3 separate regions of the Homo sapiens genome follow, and all the other regions are linked to region 3. Evidence: fine-mapped expression QTL. A gene starts in region 3. Each other region holds a variant in brackets. All regions are shown on one strand. Distances are between the middles of the regions. Region 1 overlaps LOC105370534 (a long non-coding RNA gene). Region 2 overlaps CHURC1-FNTB (CHURC1-FNTB readthrough). Region 3 holds the start of CHURC1 (churchill domain containing 1).

Region 1 (4,242 bases), 27 kb after region 3:
AGATGATGCAGCAAGAAGGCCTTCGCCACATGTTGGTGCCATAATCTTGGACTTCCCAGCCTCCAGAACCATGAGCCAAATAAATTCTGTTTATTATAAATTACCCAATCCATAGTATTCTGTTATAGCAGCATAAAACGAAGTAAGGATTGTTTCTTTCCATAGCCTCAGGTTGGTCTAATGGCCAGTGTGATGACTCGACAGGTCTTCCCATTGCTCATGGGGTGGACTGGTAAGGGGCTGAGCATGAGTCAGGCAACTCCATCTTCCACACTGGCGATGGGATCCCTGAATGAGCAAAACAGATCAGCTGTGCTGGTTTTGATTAGATCCCTGAATGAGCAAAACAGATCAGCTGTGCCGGTTTTGTATAAAAAGAATAGTTTTTTTTTTCTAACCTTTGGGGCACGGTTATTTCATTATCTGAGTTATTGATGAGAATATTCAGACCTTGTTTTCCTTTAGTTCACTGCTGTTTTGTTCTTGTTCTCACCATCCTCTCTATCAAAGCTTGTTCGCAGGTAAGGATCTCATATCTGCTATTTATATTTAACTATATTTTCCCCCACATTGAAAACAACTTTATTATTTATTATAAAATATTCTATGCTTATGAAATACCCAAACCTTATAGCAAAATAGAGAAGGAAGTAAGAATTACTCTAAATCTCACCATCTAGAAATCACTTAGATTTTTTGGAGTATCTTTCCTGATATGAAATGTCTTATTTCTTAATCAAATAGAAATTATTTAGAGCCTACTTAAAAAAAATCAACAGTATGCCATGACATCTTTCCCTATCAGTAAGCATAAAACCACATCACTTAAATGACTACATAGAATTTATGTGTGTGTGTGTGTGTGCATGCGTTCACACCATAATTGGTTTAACCAATCCCATTTTGATGAACATTGAAGTGATTTCCAATTTTTCATTATTATAATGAACATCTACTATGTTCTTAGCATAAGTGTAAAACATAGAAAGCTAAAGCTAAAAGAATCCTTAGAGACTAGCTAGTTCAATGCCATCATTTCGCAGAAGAGAAGCTGAGATATAGAGAGGTTAAGAGGAAGTAGAATCCAGGTATTTTGCCTTTACATCTAGTGATCTTTCTGGTTTACCCTGCTACTATCTTAAAAAAAAAATTCTTGGCTCTTAAAATGTCACTAAGTGGAACTGACTTTTTTTTCTTATGCCAATAGCCAAAAGATCCTACCTTAAAAGCTAACTCCTCCCGGGGTCATTGCATTTTAAGATTTGCTTTTAAGGCTGGACGTGGTGGCTCACACCTGTAATCCCAGCACTTTGGGAGGCCTAGGCAGGTGGATTACCTGAGGTCAGGAGTTCGAGACCAGCTTGGCCAACATGGTGAAACCCCGACTCTACTAAAAATACAACAAAATTAGCCTGGCGTGGTGGCAGGCACCTGTAATCCCAGCTACTTGGGAGGCTGAAGCAGGAGAATCACTTGAATCTGGGAGGCGGAGGTTGCAGTGAGCCAAGATCTCACCATTGCACTCCAGCCTGGATGACAAGAGCAAAACTCTGTCTCAAAAACAAACAAA[CAAACAAAA/A]GATTTGTTTTTAGTTATGAAATAAGTTAGCAGATTCCAGTACATTCTTTGGAATGAAGGCAGGATAGGGATATGCTGAGTATTTGAAATATATGGGGCTGGTGTTATATGGGGCTGTTTATGCCATAAACAGGCATAAACATATACCTGTTTATGCCTGGCAGTATTTATTTGAGGAGAAGGGTAAGGGTGGAGAAATAGAGTTAGGCAGCAGTTGGGGTCAGTGATGGAAAACAAATGCCCACTCACAGTTTGGAACTCCTCCCAAAAGAAGGGTCTACAGCTTTCCTTTGGTTCAGTTTCTGCTATGGAAGGTCAAGAGCTGGGTGCGTAAGTGCATTTTGATTACTAAGATGGAGATGGAATAGAACAAGCAGCACAGAGTTGTTACTCTACATGCTTAGCATAATGTGGGGCTAAATTCTTGACTTAATTAATGACTTAAAATATTAGGTTATAGTATGAATCATCTACATTACATATCATGGGATTTGTTAATTTAAAAATCATGAGATACTGCTCCTTGAATAAATGATGCTTTAATAAGCAGAGATTTGGATTTCTATGTGATCTTTGTAAAACTACTTAAACTCTTTCTTAATTTCTTAATATAGCAGTAAGGATAATGATAGCAATTTACTTCATGAAATTGAATAAAAATGACATAAGGCATTTGGAAGAGAGAAAATGATAAATGCACTTTTAAAAATAGAATTTTTCATACCAAAAAAATGAGGAAAATGATATTTCTGAGAAGACCCAGTTATATTCTGTATGAATTCTATAAAACATATGTTTGAATTGAATCATAGTTTCTTGTAGACCAGACCTTAAATCATTGAAGAAATATCCAAACAGAAATTGAGCAGCTGTAGAAATATCCAATAGAAAAGAAAATGAGATGAATTTGCAGAAGTAATGGAGTCTTTTATTGCAATGTCTTTCCAAACTTTATTGAAAATTTCCCAAAGGTCTTGGTTAATATTAAGAACAAATATTTGTGAATTTGGAAACTGCTCACTAACAAATAAAAGCAATTAACAAGACCATTTATGCTGGCAGTAATTATCATATAAACACAAAATTGTTTTATTGGTTAAACTGTTAGAACTCCAGCTGTCATTCCATATTAACAAATTTGATTTTTTAAAATTATATTTTCTACCCTTGATTTGAGTTTCTGGCTTGATAAATATTAATAAAGGAAGAGAACAAAGTTTTCATGGTTAGTTACTCTCAGTTGTCTACTTGCAGACTACCCACTGTCTGGAGTACTCAAGGTAGAGTGTTAATATCAAAACAACATTAACTCACTCCTTATAATGCGTTTGGATTCATCTTCCTATGTTCTTAATCCTGTGTACTCAAGGCTTTGGCATATTGGAGTATGGGAGTTGGAGCAGGGCCATTGCCCAAGGATGAGGACTGAAAATGACACTGAGAGGGTGGAGCAGACAGAGACAAAAGCTAACCGAATCATCATTATTGTGTTTGCTATCCCTTGTTATAAAGACGTTGGAAGATGGCAGACCCCTGCCTCCATAGATGAGCTCAGTGGTAACTGTGAGCATAAAACCTACTCGATTCACTCCATTTCTCACCCATTGACAATAAGTTAGGTATGGATGCATCAGGGTAGCTGAGGACCTGGTGAAATTCAGGCACAAATATTGCCAGCTATGTTTCAGGGAATGTGAATTCATTTAAATAACCTTATTCGAACATAGATAGGAAAGTTAATCTCCTGAAAAAAATCACAAATATGCATTTTTAAGCCAAATAGAAATGACTTTTTGAATTACCTGTTCTTTGGTTGATCTCCAAGATTGCAACCTCCTTTAATTTCCATAATGTGTTCATTCATTTATTTACTCATTTGCTCATTAGGCCTTTATTAAGTATATCTTTTGTGTCAGATACTATGCTAAGTGCCAGGAATCTTAAAACTATATCCTGAAAGCAATGGGGAGCCACTGGCTGATTTAAAGAAGCAGAGTGACAAGACCAACCTTCCTTTTTAGAAAGTGTACTTTGGCTACTATGTGGAAGCAGAATTGAAGGAGAGGGAAACTGGAGAACGGATGAACAGGTAAGAGGCTCCAGAAGCAATTCATTGTGAGAAAAGATGAGGCTGTGTGATGGACTTAATTGTATCCCCCTAAATTCACATGTTGAAGTCTTAGATCTCAATGCCTCAGAAAGTGACTGTATTTGGAGATAAGGCTTTACAGAGGTAGTGAAAGTAAAACTGAGGTCATATGGATGGGCCCTAACCAAATATAACTCATGTCCATAAAAAAAAAAAAGAGAGTAGGACATAGGTGCACACAAAGTGGAGACTATGTGAAGACAGAGGGAAAAGATAGCCCTCTACAAGCCAAGGAGAGAGGCTTCAGAAGAAATCAACCCTGCCGAAACCTTGATCTTGGACTTCTAGACCCTAGTACTGTAAGAAAATTAATTTTTGTGTTTGAGTCACCCAGCATATGGTACTTTGTCATGGGAGCCCTAGCAAATTAATACAGCCTTGGGAACAAGGTGAATTAGCACCTACAGGTCCCAGTTCATCAGATACCCCAGTGTAAGTCTGCCATTACATCTACTCAAGCTCATGTGAGGTGACAAAAAACCTAATCCTGTGTGGCAAGGAAAGATCAGGAACTG
Region 2 (4,242 bases), 24 kb before region 3:
CTTGGATGGGGGTCTTCCTTCATCAAAGCTTCTTCCCATTTGTACTTCAGTTCTAGGACAAGGCAAGAAGAAAGCAAGAAGCTGTAAATCCCATTCCTCTGGGTCTCAATTTCACCCTCAGTTCAAGGAGCTGAGTAGGCAGAGGCAAAGGCTATACTCAACACACGTGCAATTGAAAGCAGGCGAGGCAAAACCAGGGCAGAGGAAAGGAAAGGGGTGTGTGTGTAGGTATGGATTTATGGGTAGGTGGGTCGGTAGGTTAGTTGAAGAGGAGGTTCTAAGCAGTATAACCTAAGCCTCTTTTCTCTTTCTTCTGCTTCAAACACCTTAAGAACTGCTCAGGGTAGACTGGAGACAAAAGCAACAGCTCAGAAGTGCTAAATCTTGAAGAGCAGCCAAAGCATGGGCAACAAAGTGAGACCCCATCTCTACAAAAAAAAAAAAAAATTAGCCGGGCATGGTGGCCTGTGTCTGTAGTCTCAGCTACTAAAGAGGCTGAAGCAGGAGGAATGCTTGAGCCCAGAAGTTCAAGGCTGCAGTGAGCAACACCTCGTCTGTCTTGTCTCTCTCTCTTTCACAGTGAAAAAGAATGACCCTGGGGAGGGAGTGTAGGAGGGTGAAAGAGTTTCATGTTGTGGATCTTTCTCTTCCCCCACCCACTGTCCACGCACTTTGTCTTTTTCCTCCCCTAGGAGAACTGTCAGAATGAGGAGATCCTGAACAGTCTCAAGTATGTCCGTCCTGGGGGTGGATACCAGCCCACCTTCACCCTTGTCCAAAAATGTGAGGTGAATGGGCAGAACGAGCATCCTGTCTTCGCCTACCTGAAGGACAAGCTCCCCTACCCTTATGATGACCCATTTTCCCTCATGACCGATCCCAAGCTCATCATTTGGAGCCCTGTGCGCCGCTCAGATGTGGCCTGGAACTTTGAGAAGTTCCTCATAGGGCCGGAGGGAGAGCCCTTCCGACGCTACAGCCGCACCTTCCCAACCATCAACATTGAGCCTGACATCAAGCGCCTCCTTAAAGTTGCCATATAGATGTGAACTGCTCAACACACAGATCTCCTACTCCATCCAGTCCTGAGGAGCCTTAGGATGCAGCATGCCTTCAGGAGACACTGCTGGACCTCAGCATTCCCTTGATATCAGTCCCCTTCACTGCAGAGCCTTGCCTTTCCCCTCTGCCTGTTTCCTTTTCCTCTCCCAACCCTCTGGTTGGTGATTCAACTTGGGCTCCAAGACTTGGGTAAGCTCTGGGCCTTCACAGAATGATGGCACCTTCCTAAACCCTCATGGGTGGTGTCTGAGAGGCGTGAAGGGCCTGGAGCCACTCTGCTAGAAGAGACCAATAAAGGGCAGGTGTGGAAACGGCCAGCCTGTGTGTGTGTTCTTTGACAGAGGGCGGAGGGAAGCTACAAACTGCAGGTGGGATAGAGGAGCTGCTAGCACACAAAGCTTTGGGAGGGGAGGATCTGACGGATCAAGGGATGCCCTAATTACTGACAGGAAAGCAAGCGCTGGCCAAGGTCTGCAGTGGCAGGTGCAGTTACGGGAAATGTGAATTATATTATTCCTTTACAGCTCTTCTTCAGAACTGGGGAAAAAGAGAAAGTGATAATGGGAGGTAGAGGAGGAAAAGACAATGAGCCCTTTGGTTGGGGATATTGGGAGGCTGTTAGGAGGATTACAGTCAGGAAGCATCAATAGCACTGTGGGTACTGGGCCAACTAGATCTGACTTGTGCCTTGGGAAATTCCTGGGCAGTCAGCTTAGTTAATGTTTACCAATAGCAAGGGCATAGAGGGTGTAGTTACTGAGAACACAAACAGCACTTTATCTTTTTCCTGATCATCAAACATCT[C/T]GGGTGTTTGATCCTTTGCTAGACTGATTCTCCCTCCTTTTTAAAGTTCATGGCCCGGGTGTGGTGGCTCACACCTATAATCCCAGCACTTTGAGAGGCCGAGACAGGCGGATCACTTGAGGTCAGGAGTTCGAGACCAGCCTGGCCAACATGATGAAACTCTGTCTGTACTAAAAATACAAAAAATTAGCCAGGTGTGGTGGCGCACGCCTGTAATCCCAGCTACTCAGGAGGCTGAGGTGAGAGACTCATTTGAACCCGGGAGGTGGAGGCTGCAGTGAGCCAAGATGGCGGCGCCACTACACTCCAGCCTGGGCGACAGAGTGAGACTCCGTCTCAAAATAAATAAATAAAGTTCACATTACACCCTCATTCTTCTCAAAATCACATATTCACAAATTCAGGCTCCAGACAAATAGAGGCAGGAATGACTGGACTCATTTCTTCCTCTGTAAGAAGGAAGGGGTTGGGGATGGGAGAGAGCCTCCCTTCAGAGTCAGGCTGTTTATAATCTGCCATTTGCAACATCATTATTCCTCACTGTGAGGACAGTTTTGCTCAGAGGCCTTGCAAGGATGGTGTCCCCAATTCCTCATCCAGTGCAGACATAATCAAAACATATCACCACCGCCAAGGTCAGGTTCTATCATGTTCTGGAAAAGATACCTGCTGAGAGGCCACTGCCTGTCACCTTGCCCCACAGACCTCATCCTGGAAACTTCTCATTTCATCTTCCCTTCTTTGACCACTAGATGGAATATTTTCACTTCTATTCACTGAAACCCTGAAGGGACAGTTTTCCAAACTGGACACACTGCTTGAGAAGCCCAATGCTGAAGGGAAAATGTTTTTCCTTTAATTGTTCTGCTTACCCTAACCATTTTCTAAGCACTTGCATCATATGAGAGTGAATGTGGAATAGATGTTTAGGATCCCCACTTTCTGACCTTCAACTAAACCTGTCAACAACAGTGCTTTATTTCAAAAGGGTAACCTGAGTATTACAGTGGGAATCCCCTGACACCTTTCTGCAGGGCCTTCTGCTAACTTAAGGCTACCCTTACCTTCACTCTTGAAACCTCAAGCCTTTCAGATTCCTGCTCTTAAAGTCAACAGCTGGGGTATGAATTATTATGGGGCAGGACCATGTACTGATTTTAGAGCAGTAACTGCAGACAAATTGCTTTCCTGACAAAATAGAGAATTCTTCTTGGATGCTAGTCATCACCTTGACAGTACCATAGCCTGTTGTTACATCCAGTAACAGAGCCAGCTATCTCGGGTGTTGGAAACATGCCACAGGCAACTTAGAGCCTGAGACACCAGTACAATGTGTTCAGTCTTTCCCTTGAGGCCCAAGTTCAAAGAATTATTTAGGGATTCCCAAAGGAATGGGAATTACAGTATAAGTTATTCTGCAGAAAGTCAAGAGAAGGCCATAAAGCTAGAATGAAGGCTCTTCACTTGGGAGGGGAAACACTATTTGCTTCAGACAGAACCTGATCTATTCAGCTCAGGAGGAAACAGGGAAGGCAAGACTGGAAGATTCTATTTTAAAAGGATGTTTAGGTTTACCAAATATTTAGTTGTGCTGTTGTTAAAATGAAGAGAAATTAGAAAGTGTTTCCTTTCCTTTATTCTTCATCTTGTTTGTCCCCCTTATCATCCTCAGAAGTATTAGCTTGTGATCATAAACAGACAAGGCAAAGCTTTAAAATATCACCCACTTTTCTAGATAAACAAAAATCTTTTAATCAGATTTCCCTAGGGGCACCCAGAAGGAGGGGGAAGTCTCCTTAACAACTCTCCCAGAAGTGCTGAGATAATGCTATTCAACTCAGAGGAGGGACAGAGAGAATCACTAACCTGAGGGCTCTTACAAAAACAAAAAACAAAACAAAAAAACCAGAGCTTGGAACAAGTGATTTTAGGAGGCCAGGGTAAAGACACTGAAATCGATAATTATCTTCATGACTATGTTCCCATAGCTATCTCTCCTTAGTTTATGAGACACTGAGGCCCAGTATGGTGGCTCAAGCCTATAATCCCAACACTTTGGGAAGTTGAGGCGGGAAGATGGCCTGAGCCCAGGAGCTCACTATGTAGCCTGGGCTACACAGTGAGACCTCGTCTCTACAAAAAATTAAAAAAAAAAAAAAAAAATCGGCTGAGCATGGTGATGTACACCTGTAATGGTTTCAGCTACTCAGGCAGCTAGGGTGGGAGAATTGCTTGCGCCTGGGAGTTCGAGGCTGCAGTGAGCTATGATTGCACCACTGCACTCCAGCCTGGATGAGACCTTGTCTCAAAAACACTGAGTCAAACTCTAGAACTTTATTATAATCACCATCACAACCATCATCCAAACTACCATTC
Region 3 (4,242 bases):
TAAACTTCTCAATATGACTTTTAAGTTTTACAATAACTCCACTCTTAAGAATCCAACCTAAGGCCCGGCGCGGTGGCTCACGCCTGTAATCCTAGCACTTTGGGAGGCCGAGGCAGGTGGATCACGAGGTCAGGAGATCGAGACCATCCTGGCTAACAAGGCGAAACCCTGTCTCTACTAAAAATACAAAAAAATTAGCTGGGCATGGTGGTGGGCACCTGCAGTCCGAGCTACTCGGGAGGCTGAGGCAGGAGAATGGCATGAACCAGTGAGGCGGAGCTTGCAGTGAGCCGAGATCATGCCACTGCACTCCAACCTGGGCGACAGAGCAAGACTCCATCTCAAAAACAAAAACAACAACAAAAAAGAATCCAACCTAATCTCTTTAATATTCTCTACTGCAAACTCCTCCCTCATGGTCTCATAATAGCTCATGTTTATTACTGGTTTCATAAAAATCTTTTTAAACTTTAAAAAAATGAAATAGTACATAGTAAAGTACATGAAACATAAATGTAGCGAACAAGAAATGATTATAAAGTGTACATCTGTAGAACCACCACCCAAATCAAGAAATAAAACACTGCTTGCACCCGGGAAGACTTTTTCTCATGTGACCCTTCTTGATCACACCCTAATCCCTTAGGAGTAACCACTATCTCGACTTAACAGTAATTGTATACGTTCCTTACAGTTTTACCACCCAGGTACATCCTTGAATAATATATTTTGGTTTGCCTCTTTTTGAATTATACTTTATGTGTTCTTTCATCAACACTATTTGTAAGACTTTTCAGGCTGCTGTGTAATTCTAGTTTGGTTTCACGGCTATAATTCAGGGTTTCTCTACCTCCACACTATTGACATTGGGAGTGATACTTTGTTGTGGTGGCTGTCCCATGTATTGCTGGATGTTTAGCGGCATCCCTTGCATCACCCATTAGCAGTCAGTAGTACTTCCCCTTTTGACACCCAAAAAATGTCTCTGGATATTGCCAAATGTCTCCTAAGAGCCAAAAATCACTCCTGGTAGAGAACTACTGCTCTAATTCATTCACTTCCATTCCTCATTCATTAATGGTGTTCCATTCTAATGAATGTATCAGTTACTTTTCCAATCTACTACAAAAATAATGCTGTTATGAACACTTATTTATAAAAGTCTTCAGAAGCATATACACATGCATTTTTCTAGAATGGGAATCACTGGGTCATGTCTGTATTTTATAAGGCTCACCCGCTTTTTCAAAGTAGTTGTACTACAGGAGAATTCATACTGTTATACATGCTACTCAAAAGCCTAAGTATTACCCATAAGATACTAAGACATAAGGAACTACAGAGACTTTCTCCCTCCTTCCCAACCAATGCACAAATTCCATTTCTGTAATTTTCCCCCATCCTCCAGCTCCTCACCTTCTTTTCTACCCTAATTACAACTGTCCTTCAAGTCTTAGATGATGTCCACCTTTTCTCAGGGGAGAACAGCACTATCCCCTATTGCCCTCCCCTTTCCCTAAACTTGAATAGCATTTCTGAACTGAGCTACTCATTTTTTGTTAGTCACATACTCCCCAAAACTGTAAGCTGTTAGGCAGCACCAAAGGTGCCTTTTAATTTCTTCTCTGAAACAAATAATCCAGCTGGACGTGGTGGCTCATGCCAGTAATCCCAGCACTTTCGGAGGCCAAGGCGGGAGGATCACTTGATCCCAGGAATTTGAGACCAGCCTGGGCAACAGCAGCACCCTGTCTCAAAGAGAGGAGAAATAATCCCTTTCTGGCCTAGCAAAGTAATCTAACTACACATATATAAATGTTCAACAAGGATGCCTTGAATGAATGAGAATAGACAAGCTTTGCAAACTCCTGAACCTGAAAGTAACTGAGATTCAGAAGGCGGTAACAGGCAGGAAACCTAAATTCTAGTCCTGGCTCTCATCCATGCAACTAGAATGTGAACTTGGGCAAGTGATTTCCCCTCTCTGGGCATCGGTTTCTTCATCTGCAAAAGTGTTAGAACAGATGACCACAGAGGTCCCCTCCAGCGCTAGAATTCGGTAAGAAAATTGTACTTCATCAAATCGAGCTTGAGGATGAGACCGGAAGTGGGGGTGGGGGAGTCCCTCGGTTGTCGACGGGGGTTGTGGTGGTGGTGGGGTTCCTCTGTTGCTCCTTGGAGCTCAAGAGAACGGCCACTACAACTGAGGTCAGCCGCCAGGGCGGGTACCAGAGGTGCAGACCGCCACAGGCCATCCCTGGTGTGCCTAAATACCGCTACTGGGTCACCGGGACCGGCAGTGCGGCCGAGTCCGCCCCACGTACGGCCTCTCTGGGAAGGCCAGCCTTGGATATGAGACACCTCGGGGGCCGCCCGCGGGCCAAGGGAGCGCCCAGTCGCTCACCCGGTTGGGATATTCCTTCTCCACACAGTCGCCACACATCGCGACGCAGTCAACAGGGAATGTCCTCCAACGCTTCCGGGAAGACGAAACCTCGCGAGAACTGAGATACGGTTGCCGCATGCGCCCAAGTACTCGACTCCTGGGTATTCCGTCTCGGGAACCGAGCCGAAGTCTCCGCCCCTTAGCAACTGTTGTCAAGGCAGGGCACAGTCTCCTTGGCACCGTGCGTGGGCAAAGGGTGGGGCTTCAGAAACCTTTGGAGACAGACGAAGAAATCTTGTGCGCTAACAGATGTGACGGGAAGGGAAAGGGATCTTGGGCTGAGCGAAGTTCTCACAGACACCTTCCTGAGCTTAGGCTGACAAGAAAGGCAAATCACGACACACAAGAAAGGGAATTATTTCTCGCTACCGCATATACAAATCTGAAATGTTAATGAATACATTTCTGTACCATTTCTTAAGGCAATGAGAGTGAATAAGAGACCAGATCTCAGCAGGTGAATAAACAGTAACCGAAGTGTTTGGGAAGAGACACTCAGAGTGCTGCAGAAAATCTCCTAAAAAAACACTTAAAATATTAGTAATAATTGGTCATTCCAGAGTCCTCTGGAGGACATAGCAACGAGGAACGTATTTCTATCTCTCTCAGGTGTCACAGAAGCACCTCAGTGGCGGGCAAGCACTATGTAAATAGAAAAATGGCCAGGTCATCAGCCATCCCATTACTGGGTATATACCCAAAGGATTATAAATCATGCTGCTATAAAGACACATGCACATGTATGTTTATTGTGGCACTATTCAGAATACCAAAGACTTGGAACCAATGCAAATGTCCATCAATGATAGACTGGATTAAGAAAATGTGGCACATATATACCATGGAATACTATGCAGCCATAAAAAAGGATGAGTTCATGTCCTTTGTAGGGACACGGATGAAGCTGGAAACCGTCATTCTGAGCAAACTATCGCAAGGACAGAAAACCAAACACCGCATGTTCTCACTCATAGGTGGGAATTGAACAATGAGAACACTTGGACACAGGGTGGGGAACACCACACACCGGGGCCTGTCGTGGGGTGGGGGGAGGGGGGAGGGATAGCATTAGGAGATATACTTAATGTAAATGACGAGTTAATGTGTGCAGCACACCAACATGGCATATCTATACATAGGTAACAAATCTGCACGTTGTGCACATGTACCCTAGAACTTAAAGTATATTAAAAATAAATAGATTTCAAAAATTATCTAATTGAATTGACTGCAGATATTTTGATTTCAGATTTGCACATCCATTTATAAATGACCTATTGGTTCACAGATTAAAAAACCAATAAACATATGTGCTTCCAAGAAAAGAAAGAAAGAAAGAAAAATGGCCAGGTCAGTTGTTCCTGCATCATTTCCCAATCCTGTGGGTCTCAAAATGCTTGTGCTTGTTGCCCCGCCTCATCCTTTCTCTCTGTATTGAAAGCATCTTATTTATTCGCAACGACCTAATTAACTTGCAGACGAATCTCCGAAGTTTGTCTCTGTTTCTGAACAATGCGTCTTTATCACACTCCTCTACCCCAATGGGAACATCAACATCCTCCCTCAGCCCTGCTTTATTGCTGTCATGTCAGGGAAGAAAGATTGGGGAGCCTGGGAGACTCTGGGATCCAGATTCCTTAAAGAAGAGATTAATAACCATTTCAAAGCACACCAGTTTAAATGGGTTTGCTAATATGGGAATTATTTTTCCACGGAAGCACTGAAGTTGTAACCTTTAGTATTTCAACTTCTAGTAAGTATCTGCAACTGTTATTAAAAATCATAGGTGTGCTAAG

What was found. PIP is the estimated chance that this variant, and not a neighbour inherited with it, causes the effect.
Region 1: its variant is fine-mapped to the expression of CHURC1 in whole blood (INTERVAL, PIP above 0.99).
Region 2: its variant is fine-mapped to the expression of CHURC1 in whole blood (INTERVAL, PIP above 0.99).

Annotation. Positions count from the first base shown.
Region 1 is chr14:64,885,348-64,889,589 of GRCh38, reverse strand. It overlaps LOC105370534 (a long non-coding RNA gene), which reads left to right. Exons shown (of 3, transcript XR_943942.3): 2 at 3,600-3,667. Among named protein-coding and RNA genes, the nearest start is that of SPTB, 7.6 kb to the right of the region's middle. The variant CAAACAAAA/A (reference allele first, on the strand shown) is at 1,571.
Region 2 is chr14:64,936,289-64,940,530 of GRCh38, reverse strand. All of the region lies in intron 3 of CHURC1-FNTB (CHURC1-FNTB readthrough), which reads right to left. GPX2 (glutathione peroxidase 2) reads left to right here. Exons shown (of 2, transcript NM_002083.4): 2 at 693-1,373. The coding sequence ends at 1,043. Among named protein-coding and RNA genes, the nearest start is that of GPX2, 4.3 kb to the left of the region's middle. The variant C/T (reference allele first, on the strand shown) is at 1,867.
Region 3 is chr14:64,912,697-64,916,938 of GRCh38, reverse strand. It overlaps CHURC1 (churchill domain containing 1), which reads right to left and starts at 2,484. Exons shown (of 4, transcript NM_001386928.1): 1 at 2,405-2,484. The coding sequence starts at 2,443. It overlaps CHURC1-FNTB (CHURC1-FNTB readthrough), which reads right to left and starts at 2,578. Exons shown (of 14, transcript NM_001202559.1): 1 at 2,405-2,578. The coding sequence starts at 2,524. RefSeq lists enhancers at 2,215-2,484, 2,635-2,684.